2 linked regions of the Homo sapiens genome follow. The protein of the gene in region 1 purifies or fractionates together with the protein of each later gene. This does not show direct contact. Each region holds a gene or a part of one and is shown in the gene's direction. Other genes may lie near its edges.

What was found.
Region 2: the proteins of SCN5A (region 1) and PRMT3 purify together in Homo sapiens (co-immunoprecipitation; one study listed by IntAct). This does not show direct contact.

What each region holds. Positions count from the first base shown.
Region 1 is NC_000003.12:38,642,435-38,647,738, reverse strand, and holds part of SCN5A (sodium channel protein type 5 subunit alpha), read left to right. Parts: intron 1-5,304. UniProt on the Homo sapiens protein: Pore-forming subunit of Nav1.5, a voltage-gated sodium (Nav) channel that directly mediates the depolarizing phase of action potentials in excitable membranes.
Region 2 is NC_000011.10:20,462,986-20,468,289, forward strand, and holds part of PRMT3 (protein arginine N-methyltransferase 3), read left to right. Parts: intron 1-1,474; coding exon 1,475-1,561; intron 1,562-5,304. UniProt on the Homo sapiens protein: Protein-arginine N-methyltransferase that catalyzes both the monomethylation and asymmetric dimethylation of the guanidino nitrogens of arginine residues in target proteins, and therefore falls into the group of type I methyltransferases.

The sequences.
Region 1 (5,304 bases):
CTAGTATTGACTCACTCAGCATGAAGATTGGGCTTGGAGGACTAGTGGGAAGCACCAGAGACAGCTGGGGATGGGAGAAGAGCGGAGGCTGGTGCCCAGGCAATCCAAAGAGAAGGGAGTCCTGAGGGCAGCCAGGGACAGTGGCAAATTGCAGTTTGTGTTCTGTTCAGAGGAGGCTGGCTTATGCTCACTCTTGGGAAGGTTATTGGAAGGGTGTGCAGTGGTAGAAGTGTGTCCCCAGAGCCCATTCACAGGAGAGGTGGTTACCTTTGGCCGGAATAGTCAAGAATCTTATTCTAACAAAAATAACCTTCCACACTGGGTTTTGAAGGGTGAATAGGAGTTTTCCAGGCAAGGACAGTGCAGTCTAGCTGTCAGGACCAGTATGTACAAAAGACAGAAAAGTGAAACAGCACAATTATTAGTTGAGTGATTCGTTGGGCCCCATGGTGTGAGGAAGAGAAGAGCGGAGTTAAAGCCAAGGTCACAGTCACGGGGGCCCTTGTGAGCTCTGCTCAGGAATTGGGAATTTATCCTCAGTAATGTTACTAAAAATAGCTAACATTCACTGAGTGCTTTCTGCAGGCCAGGCATGGCACTAAGCGCTTTATACGGTTAATCTCACTGAATCCTTGCATCAACCCTAGAGGTAGGGACCATCATAATGGCCGTTTTGCAGATGGTGAAACTGGTGGTCCAGAAAGGTTAAATAGTTGCACACCGTCACATTTTCTAAGTAGCAGAACTTGGGTTTGAGCCCAAGTGTCAATATCTGCTGTGTACTATACCACCTCCCCAGCTCAGACCATGGGTGCCATGCAAAGTCTTTCCATTGAAGGAGAGGCGACTGGCAGCTTACCACAGGTAATAGAACTTATGGTGTCCCATCTTCCTTCTCTGTCAAGTGACATGCTGCTCTCCCATTCCCCACCTCCAATGTCTCACTAAGTGAGGTGTGCTGCCCCCTGGCGCACCATGAGAAGAAGAATGGGCAAGTTAAATTTGGGTTGGCAAGCTTGATGAAGAGCAAAGGAAAAGTGACAGATGTTTCATGGTTCTGATTTGAACCTGTTGTACTTCCAGGGACAGATGCTGACATCCAGAAGGTAGTTGGAGGGAAGGGTCCAGGTAGGAAGTATGTTCAGGATGGAGATCTGGGCTGGAAATGGAAACTTAGAGCTTTCAGCAGAGGTTGGTCATTGGAGATGTGGCACTGAGTTAGATTGCCCAGCGAGAGTGCAGACCTGGGGTTCTCACTCCTGGTGACATTAGCATCACTTGGAAAGCTTTAAGTAAAAATACCTATGCTCAGGCTCCAGCCCTAGACATGCTAATTCATTTGACCCTGGGATGAGGCCTGGGCATCGGGAGTTTTGGAAGCACCCAGGTGATTCTAACGTGGTGTAGAGGGTAAGAAGGAAGGGGGCTGAGTCAGGAGCCCAGAAATACTCCAACCATCAAAGCAGGAGAAGTCTGCAGAGAAGGCTGAAAAGGAGCAGCCAGAGAGGTAGGAGGAAAGCCAGGAGTAGGAGGCGCTGCAGAAGGCAAGGAGAGTGCCCTGCTCGGGGGGAGGGAAAGTGCCCTGTTTCTTTCTGCTGAGAGACTTAAGGTGCATTCTCAGAAGTTCATGGATAGATAGAAAAAGAATGAATAATTTAAAAAGAAGTGTCCATTAGATCGAGCCATGGTGAGGGTGCTGGTGACCTTGGTAGGAGAAACTCCACTCAGCGCCCGCAGAATGTAGGGCCCAGTACAGACAGGTTCTTGTTGAATGAATGAATGAGTGACTTGGTGGGAATGGAAGCCAGTTTGGAGTGGGTTGAGAAGCGAGCTGGAGGTGAGGACGTGGAGACAGCATGTATAGACAGCTCTTTCAAAGAGTTTGATGGTTGAAGAGGGAGGAGAGAGATAGAAGGGAGCTGGCGAGGGGTGGGGTCAGGGAGGGCTGTCGGGAGAGCCTGGAGTGGACACTGTGGGCATGCGTGTCCGTGCAGCACATCGCCATGCAGGAGCCTGGGGGAAGGCCTTTCCCTCAGTGAGGGCTGCAGGTCTGTGAGTTAAGATCGTACCAGTGAAGTGTGTAGTGGTTACTGTTTGTTCAGGGGGCAGTCAGGAAGGCCTGGGTAGAGGGAATAACTCTTTCTGTGAATCTCTGGGAGGGAGATTTTGATGGCAGGAAATGTGATTCCTGCTGGGGGTGGCAGGCAGAAAGGGAAGGGAGCCCTTGCTCTGCAGAGAGAAGGGTGTTCCAGAAAGCCGTATTTAGGGACAAGATTAAGTTGTCTAGGGCAGGTATCCAGGGTGATAGGATTGGGAGAAGGGAGCTGGAGTAAAAGCCCTGCGGCTAAATACATGAAGAAGGCAGAGAGAGGAAAAAGCAGGGCCAGTGAGTAGCCTGTGGACAGAGGCTGGGCCCCGTGGGGAGCAGACCCACGACAGGGCTGGCCAGGGCTGCAGGGGAAGCCTGGGACGGGAGAGCCCCACAGCCTGCTGCCAGCCCAGGCTGCCCTGATGCAGGGGTCTGAGGCAGAGTTCATGCCTTTGGGCCATGGAAGGTTCTAGAAGGTGTACAAGCTATAACAATTGTTCTTATGAAGTTTACATACAAGTAGGGAGATACCATTAAACCAATCCATACAGAAGATAATTTGAGATAGGGGCTAGTGCTATGAAGGAAATACAACAGGACAATGTGATGGAGAGACGTGGGGGTGACTCTAGACTGGCTGGGCAGGGAAAGCCCCTTGAAGGAGGAGACTGAACTGAGACCTGAATAACATGAAAGAACCAAGCCCGAGGAGGTCTAGGGAAAGAATGTTACAGAGGGAACTGCAAGTGCAAAGGCCCTGAGGCAGGGGCAAACTCTGTGGGTTGGAGCAGAGGGAATAGGGTAGGGATGGAGAGGTTCTGTGCCTCTGTTTCTGACCCACCCCTTCAGACTGCCCATTCGGCTATGCACAGCTTACACCACTCGCCTCAGGCTGGCAGCGGTTCCTGGGGATGAGACTATTTTTAGACACAACTCTCCTATCCGTGGGCCTAGAACATACCGTGTCTTTTTAAGATGATCAATATGGAATGACGCTATTTATAGAGACCCCACATCAATTCTCAGAGCCTGGGAGCCCCAGTGTGGGGACAGTCCCAGGACCAGGCTTTGTGGAGGTAGGCACCACCCCTGGCACAACACTGAGGCCATCTGACATCAATTCTTTAACACTTATCTTACCTTCTCCACCCCGCCTGCCGTCACTTGTCTTCCCTGAAGAGCCACAGCCATGGGCTGGGGAGCTTGGTACCCACAGCCTCCCCCTGCAACTTCATTTCCCCAAGGGGTACCTGGTATGCCCCAAGTCCAACATAAAATTTAGTTGTGATTTGCGAAGCCAGAGTCTGATAGAACAGTTTCTCAACCTCTCTTGTCCATTCCTCACTCTGTTTACTATTCTGGAGGGGCAGAAAAGGACAGTGAAAATTCTTAAGACCTCCTAGGTTCGCCTCAGAGGGCCAGGGAGAGATCCGCCCAGGACAGGAAGAATGTAAGGTTGAACTTAGGGGCTGAGCTTCCCTGGTGGGAGGTCATTGTGGCCCAGAGCAGCCAGGCGAGACTGCCTGGAACAGGTGGGACTGGTACCCCTCCACAGAGGATGCACAGAATTCAGAGAGGTGAATGCCCAGATCATGTGACTGGGCCTGTTGTCAGGAGAGAATGTCTATGCACTGAGGCTTCAGTTCTTTCTCTCCTCTTCAGTTTCTTCTTCTGTTTAAATCTCCTAGGGAGGCAATGGAAAGTCATGTCCCCACAGAGGTATTAGCAGAGTGGAGGGATGGAGCTGCTCTCGCAGCATCTCTGTGTGCCCAGGAGGGTCTCTTGTCCACTCAGAAACCCCTGTCATCATCACCAAGGGCTTTCCTTGGCCTCCTAACAGCCCTGGGTGGCCAAGGCTGGTGCTGGCTGCCCCATAGGCTCAAGGTCACACGGGGAAGTGGGCAGAGCTCAGACAGGACTTCACCCTTACCCTTGCCCAGGGAGCCCCCGTGGTTTCTGGGAATGGATTTTGAACAGGAGAGAGGCTTCTCCTGGCACCAGGAGAAAGGTAAATGCCGTTCTGGTAGGTATTGATTCCTCGAAGGCCTGTGCAAGGCAAGAGGCCGCTTTCAAAGAGTTGGCAGAGCAGAGAGAGGTAATCTGGCTTCAGGCACCAAATCAGTTCTCAGGGTACTCAAGCTACATTAGCCATCCCCCTACACTCAGGCTTGGCTGGGAGGTACCCCAAATGATCTAAGATGGGGGAAAAATCAGACCATGGGTGGGACCAGCCAAGCCCAATCAGTGCACCCTGCCTGGCCATCAAAGCCCCAGCCTCATCGACCTGGGCCAAGCGCAGGAAAGTGGCCCAGACAAGCCCCTCAGAGCCAAGGTGCCCGCCCTTGGCTGCGCAGCTCTGCTGCCTCTGGGCATGCTCCTAGGAAGAACCCCAGCCCCGCATTCATTCTGTACTGAGCCCAGGGCTCCACTCAAGGGACACCAGCTGGTGTGGGGTACAAGGAGGCTGAGGGCCAGAGACCACCCACCCCAGCCTCTGTTCCTCATGTTCTGCTCATAGACGTGGTCAGAAGAAGACACGGGAGCTCAGCCGGCCATTTGCAGCGACAGCCTCACCACTGTGCTGGGTCAGATGCAGCACAGACTGCCAGTTAAATAAAGCGACAGCTAGTTGCCAGCAAAACTGGAAACCCAAGGAAAGCCCCCACTTGCTTGCGGAGCCTAGGTGCCTATTAGATGTCTAATTGCTGAGCTTCTGTTTCAGGAAGTCCGAGGGAAGGAGAGATAACAACTCCCTAAGGATCCCTTGGGGTCTATGGTCCCCAGAGATAGCTGGACTTCAGGTCCCTTCCAGTCCTCGCCTTTTATGATCAAATTAAGGACACGTCCCCAGATGGGTGACTTGTATTCACAGTGCATTACACAGGGAGCTTAGATCACACTCGCCAACAAATAAAAGGTAAAAATCTCAAACATCGTGTTGAGTAAAAACAGCCTGACACAGAAGAGCCCATAAGGTAGAATTCCATATGCATGAAGTTCCAGAACAGGCAAAACCAACCTAGGTGATAGAAATCAGAGCAGTTGACTGAAAGGAATAGTGGGACTTTCTGGGGTGAGGGGATGTTTGCTGTCTTATTGGAGTGGCACTCACACAGGTGTATGCATTTGTCAAAACTCATCCAACTGTATACTTAAAGCATTTTCTTGTGTTTAAAGAGTACCTCAGTATGAAAGAATATTAAGAAAAAAGGGTT
Region 2 (5,304 bases), on another chromosome or scaffold:
CTCCCAAGTAGCTGGGACTACAGGCATGCACCACCATGCCTGGCTAAATTTTTGTATTTTAGTAGAGATGGGGTTTCACCGTGTTGACCAGGATGGTCTTGATCTCCTGACCTCATGATCCGCCTGCCTCGGCCTCCCGAAGTGCTGTCTTCTCGTTTTAATCACGCTGTTACTTTCATATAGCATCAATATTTCTTCTCTGTACAAAGCAGATATTTAGTACATATTTAATTTTCTTAAATGGATAAAGCATTAATAGTATAGAGTAATAAATGTGAAGTTTCTTAACAAGAGCAGGCTGATTAAAAGTGCGTTCAGCTTTTAAGAAAAACAGTCTGCTTGATGGTTATACGACTTCAGTGCTCTGGTACAGTGAGAATAAAGAGTTTATTTGGGCTCTTTGGCTCAGGATAGGAGTGTACAGTTATAACCAACTAAGCCTTAAAGTTGAGCAGAAAGAGGAGAGTTGGTGGAGGTTGCTGATTTCTCTCTCTAGTGATCTCTGCTTAATGCAAAAACTGCCATGAATAAATAGTTGAGACAGAAAAATTTAGACCTGAAAATAAGGTGTTAAAAAGTGTATGTACTCTTTTTTTTTTTTTAACATTTATTTAAGTAAATAGTTTGTTCTGTATTTTCCAGTCCTCCCACAAACACATTGTACTGTTAAAATGTTTTCTCAAATTGTTTTCAATAGTGTCTCAGATGTGTGGTTACATTAATTGCATTCACTGGGTTATGATCTACTCCTGGCTGGATCTACTCAGCTGATGACGGTCTTTACAGCACACTTCTGGTTAGACTGCTGTAGTTGAAAGGTGATTCCATCCCTTCTCCAAAGTATAATGGAGAAGGATTTGAAAAAGGGCAGAATGGGAAAATAAAGATATTTCGCTATTTTTTCTCTGGATCGAAATCTCCATAGTTTTGCTGTTTTGTTTGAATTGTGTGGTTTCTCCTCATATCTAACAAAACTTATCTTCAATTATAGACATGAATTTTAAAACAACTTTCTTTTCATTAGCATGTGTTTTCAAGTTGGCAGTTCCTATAAATGTATTGACTGTTATCACACATATTTTATAGCAGTTGTGGTGGGTGTACCATACACAGTAGGCAAAATGATGTTAGGTGAAACACAGGAAAACATTTTTTATTTGAAAGTATTTATTTTAGTGTGTCAGGAAAACTTTAGCACATTAGCACTATGATTTGATAAATACTATTGTTTACAAGGAGCCTAAGTTAAATGAATTTAAGAAAAAATTAACAAGATGATAGTACTAGTACTCCTTAAACTTATAAATAATTCCAAAAATTAGCATGTGAGTAAAGTTTGCAAAACTTTGGTTTCCAATAATCATTTGTGCATAAAAGAAGTAATGTTTGTCTGGGTTGTTTTTGTTTTATTTTTTGTTTTTTTTTTTTGGACTATTTTTACTAAGCTCTTTCTTCACTTCTTTTTAATGGGTAGCATATAGATTGCCATACGACGTCTATCTCAGATTTGGAATTTTCATCAGATTTTACCCTGAAAATCACAAGGACATCCATGTGCACGGTAAGCTATTTCATTCTGCTTTTACAAATTTCACTAGCAGTGCAGTTGATTGGCAGGCTAATGAGTTTAATTACCAGGCTTGTGACAAATGAAAATGACTATTGCCTCTGACAGTCTACCATTGCCTTTGCTAGGCCATTGAACAGATCTGGTTAATAGGTCAGTAAACTTCAAAAAAGTTTAATTCAGTAGAAAAAGTATTAGGAAACCCTGTTTACATAATGATTTTTCTTTATAGAGTCTTCATTATTTCCTATCACGTGGTTAGTCAAGAGCACTCAACTTTATCTTCAAAGACCAAAGTTCATACCCTATTCCTCCCTTTAACTCTTTACATTTAATTTAGATGGAAGATATGTTTATTTGGTAGAATATTTTATGTTTTATATTTATGTATGAAAAAATTACTGAACTGCTATTGAGTTACCTTTCAAAAATCTAATAATAATTTAATAGTCTAATAGAAAAAATCCTTTGGAAAAGTTAGGCAGATCTGGGTTCCTATGTGGTTCTACCACTTATTTCGTTGTTAAGTTACCTAAGTAATCTGTACTTCAGACTATTCAGTTGCTTTAAGAAAAATGGGGATAATTCTGTTTCGATGACTCATTACATGGATTCATGAGATATATGTGAAAATACCTGCAATGTAGCCAGAAACGTTAGATTATTAAAATATAAAAAATTTTTCATCTCAAATAATTTATAAATGTTTATTTTTTTAAGATAACATTTACTGCTGTCAGGAGACTCAAATTGTTCATAAAATCTGCTCCTTATAGTATGAGTTTATATAGGTGGTATTAACATATTTATATTATTTTAAAAATATATGGTTTTTAAAACTATGTCCTCAGAAGTTTACATTTTTATGGAAAATTGTATTGTCAGAATCTGTAAAATAGATTATAAGTCATGTTAACATTGAGTCTTCTGCCTGATTCTTTTAAATATTTGGTTCAGATCGATATATTATACACAAGACTTCATGTCTTTACAGTTGTTTCAGTTCATTTTGATTCAGTGATTATTTTATATCCAAATAAGTTTAACAATGTACTTTGATGTTTTGAGGGAATCTTCTTTTAGTTGAAGTTGGTTTTATAATTTTTTAAAGTTTAAATATCCAGATTTAAGTTTAATTTAAATATCCAGATTAAAGTTTAAATATCACAAATAAAGATTTGTGACTTTGGAGCACTCATTATTTATTTAATTAACAAAAAGCAAAATTTGATTCATTTCCCATGTATTTTCTAATTCTGCTTTTTAGTAATTGAAATTATTTTTGTCAATTGAAATTAGGCTAAAGGCTAACTCCTAGACTTTCCTTTTTGTTTTGATATTATTAATACATGAGGGTTGAAAAAAGACCATCTTGATTAATGAAAATTGATCAATCATCTATAAAGGAATTCCTAGAATAAATTGTCATGTCACCAGTATTAAATATATATTTCACATATATTTTCAGTGCCTATCACATGAATCAAAATAGAGCAGATGTAAAACTCTACTGAAGATGTCAAAAGCTTGTGCATATTTGTGAACTCTAGAAAAGTTTATTGACTTTCATTGAAATGTTCTTTTTTTCTAGTTTATTGGTCAGGGTTCTTAGTTTTCGACAACAGAATTTAAATCGGTTGGTTTAAACTGAGAGATTTGTTAGAGGGAATACAATAGTTTCCAGACACATTGGGAGACCTAAAGGAACAGACAGTATTTTCAACTTCTAGAAACTTCTAGAACCACACCTTTGAACTGGCCTGCTACAGAGCTGCCTGTTTTAAATAGCCTAGCACTGTAGGTTCTATTTACCTTAATTCCCCTAGCCCACTCCGTGTTAGCCACCACTGACAACCCCAGATGAACAAAACCCTTTACTACCATCCTGGTTCCTGGTCCTCTGTCCTCCCAACCCAGGTAGGCCATGTTCTCCTTCCAAATCTTCATTCAGCATATCTGCTTGGTGAATCTAGGTCATGTGGGGCCCTAGCTGTCAGTAAGTTTTGGAAAGCAGTTTTAGCTACAGTTTTATACTACAGATCTGGAGTTTCATAACACATATATGGAATTGTTTTCTATTTCCTAGTATTTAGGATAGAGTACAAGAAGGTTTGTATTAAATGAAACTGTATCCTTCAGTCATCTTAGTTTTATTCTGTATACTTAAAAGAGTAAAAAGAAACATCTTAGTTTTATTCTGTATACTTAAAAGAGTAAAACAAAACAAGAAAAAAATTGGTAAAGTCTATTTAATTCAAAGATTGTAATTGAACTTTTAATATTGAAGAATCTAAGTATCAAATAGTTACTTGCTGCATTTGTCCCTGTACAAAGTTCCATAAGAAAAATGAATTATAAGTAAACTGTTACATTATATCTATAAAGTACCTTTTATTTAGATTTGCATTTTTAGTCGCAACTTGCCTGAATGGTGTTTATGAAAAAGTTTGTTTGGAAATTAGGTGAGCCTAAGGTTTGCGAAGAAGGTGGCAGGAGGTTGGAGTGGAGTTACAGGTGTCTAGTTACTGCTGAATAACCTAGTTCCATAACTCACCTCAGGAAGAATGTATTGTTACAAACCATTTATTGGATGCATGCCAGGTACTGAAGATAAAATATTTTAGTAGTTAGCATTGAATGTTAACTCTTCTGACATTATCCTTTAAAATTTAGTTAATATTATCAGAGGAAGGTAACGTACATCAACAGTCGTTGAACACTTGAATGTCAGACAATGTGCTAATCACTTTAAAAGCATTATTTAGTTCTCATAATAACCATTTGAGATGAGTACTCATATTATTCCCATCTTACTGGTGAAGGAAAAAAATTACTGTTTTACTTGTGAAATAAAATCTCCTTACTCTTTCCTGACCCAAAAAACCTTCTTTGTGGGATTGTAGAAACTATTAAAAGAACTTAGAGAAACCTATGAATAAGATCTTACAGGGGTAGAAGAAAGCAGGCTTCGTGTTGCATTTGAAACAGATTTAACAATGTTTATTTTTGGCAAATAGTCCAGCAGTTGGAATGAAGAGGGAAAGAGAATATGTATAATCAGAATTCACTCTTCTTAAGAGACAGGCCTCACAGATTCATGTGATGAAATCAGTACCAGAGTTCATCCTCTTTGCAGCAGATAGGAAGTAGATCTTTGAAGTTTTTCTTTATCCTCTCAGAGTAAGCTTATACTTGTTTGGTTAAGCATCTACATTTCTTGGAAACCTCCTTCCCAGCATGCTAACTCTAACGTGAGCTTGACATATGTAAGATGTTGTGGCCTAATGCTTCTATTAGGTGTTCATTATTTGTGAATCTTAACTATCCACCCATATTTACTTCGATTCTCTTGCTCTTTGGGATGGTATCAGCTCCTTACCCTCCCTCCTACAGACCTATCCATCTGGAGCTACTTACGCAAGCATGGCCTCTTTGAATGGATTAGTCGCCCAGTTTATGTGGGAATAATCCATAACAAAAGTATTAAAAAGGATGAGTGCCTAATTGGAACTTTGTTTCCCCTTTATAGTTAGAAGAATTAGCGAAGATATTGAAAGTTTTTGAAAAAGCCTAGTAAAGGAATAAATAAAGTAACTGGGGAATAAGAGGAAGAGATTGGGCTTTTTTAGATAGAGGGAAGAAGAAAGTATCTGAATTTGTACTGCTAAGTACAAACCTTCAGATATTAAATGCTTTTCTTCTTGTGTTGAAACTTGAATGCTTAGCTACTAATTAAA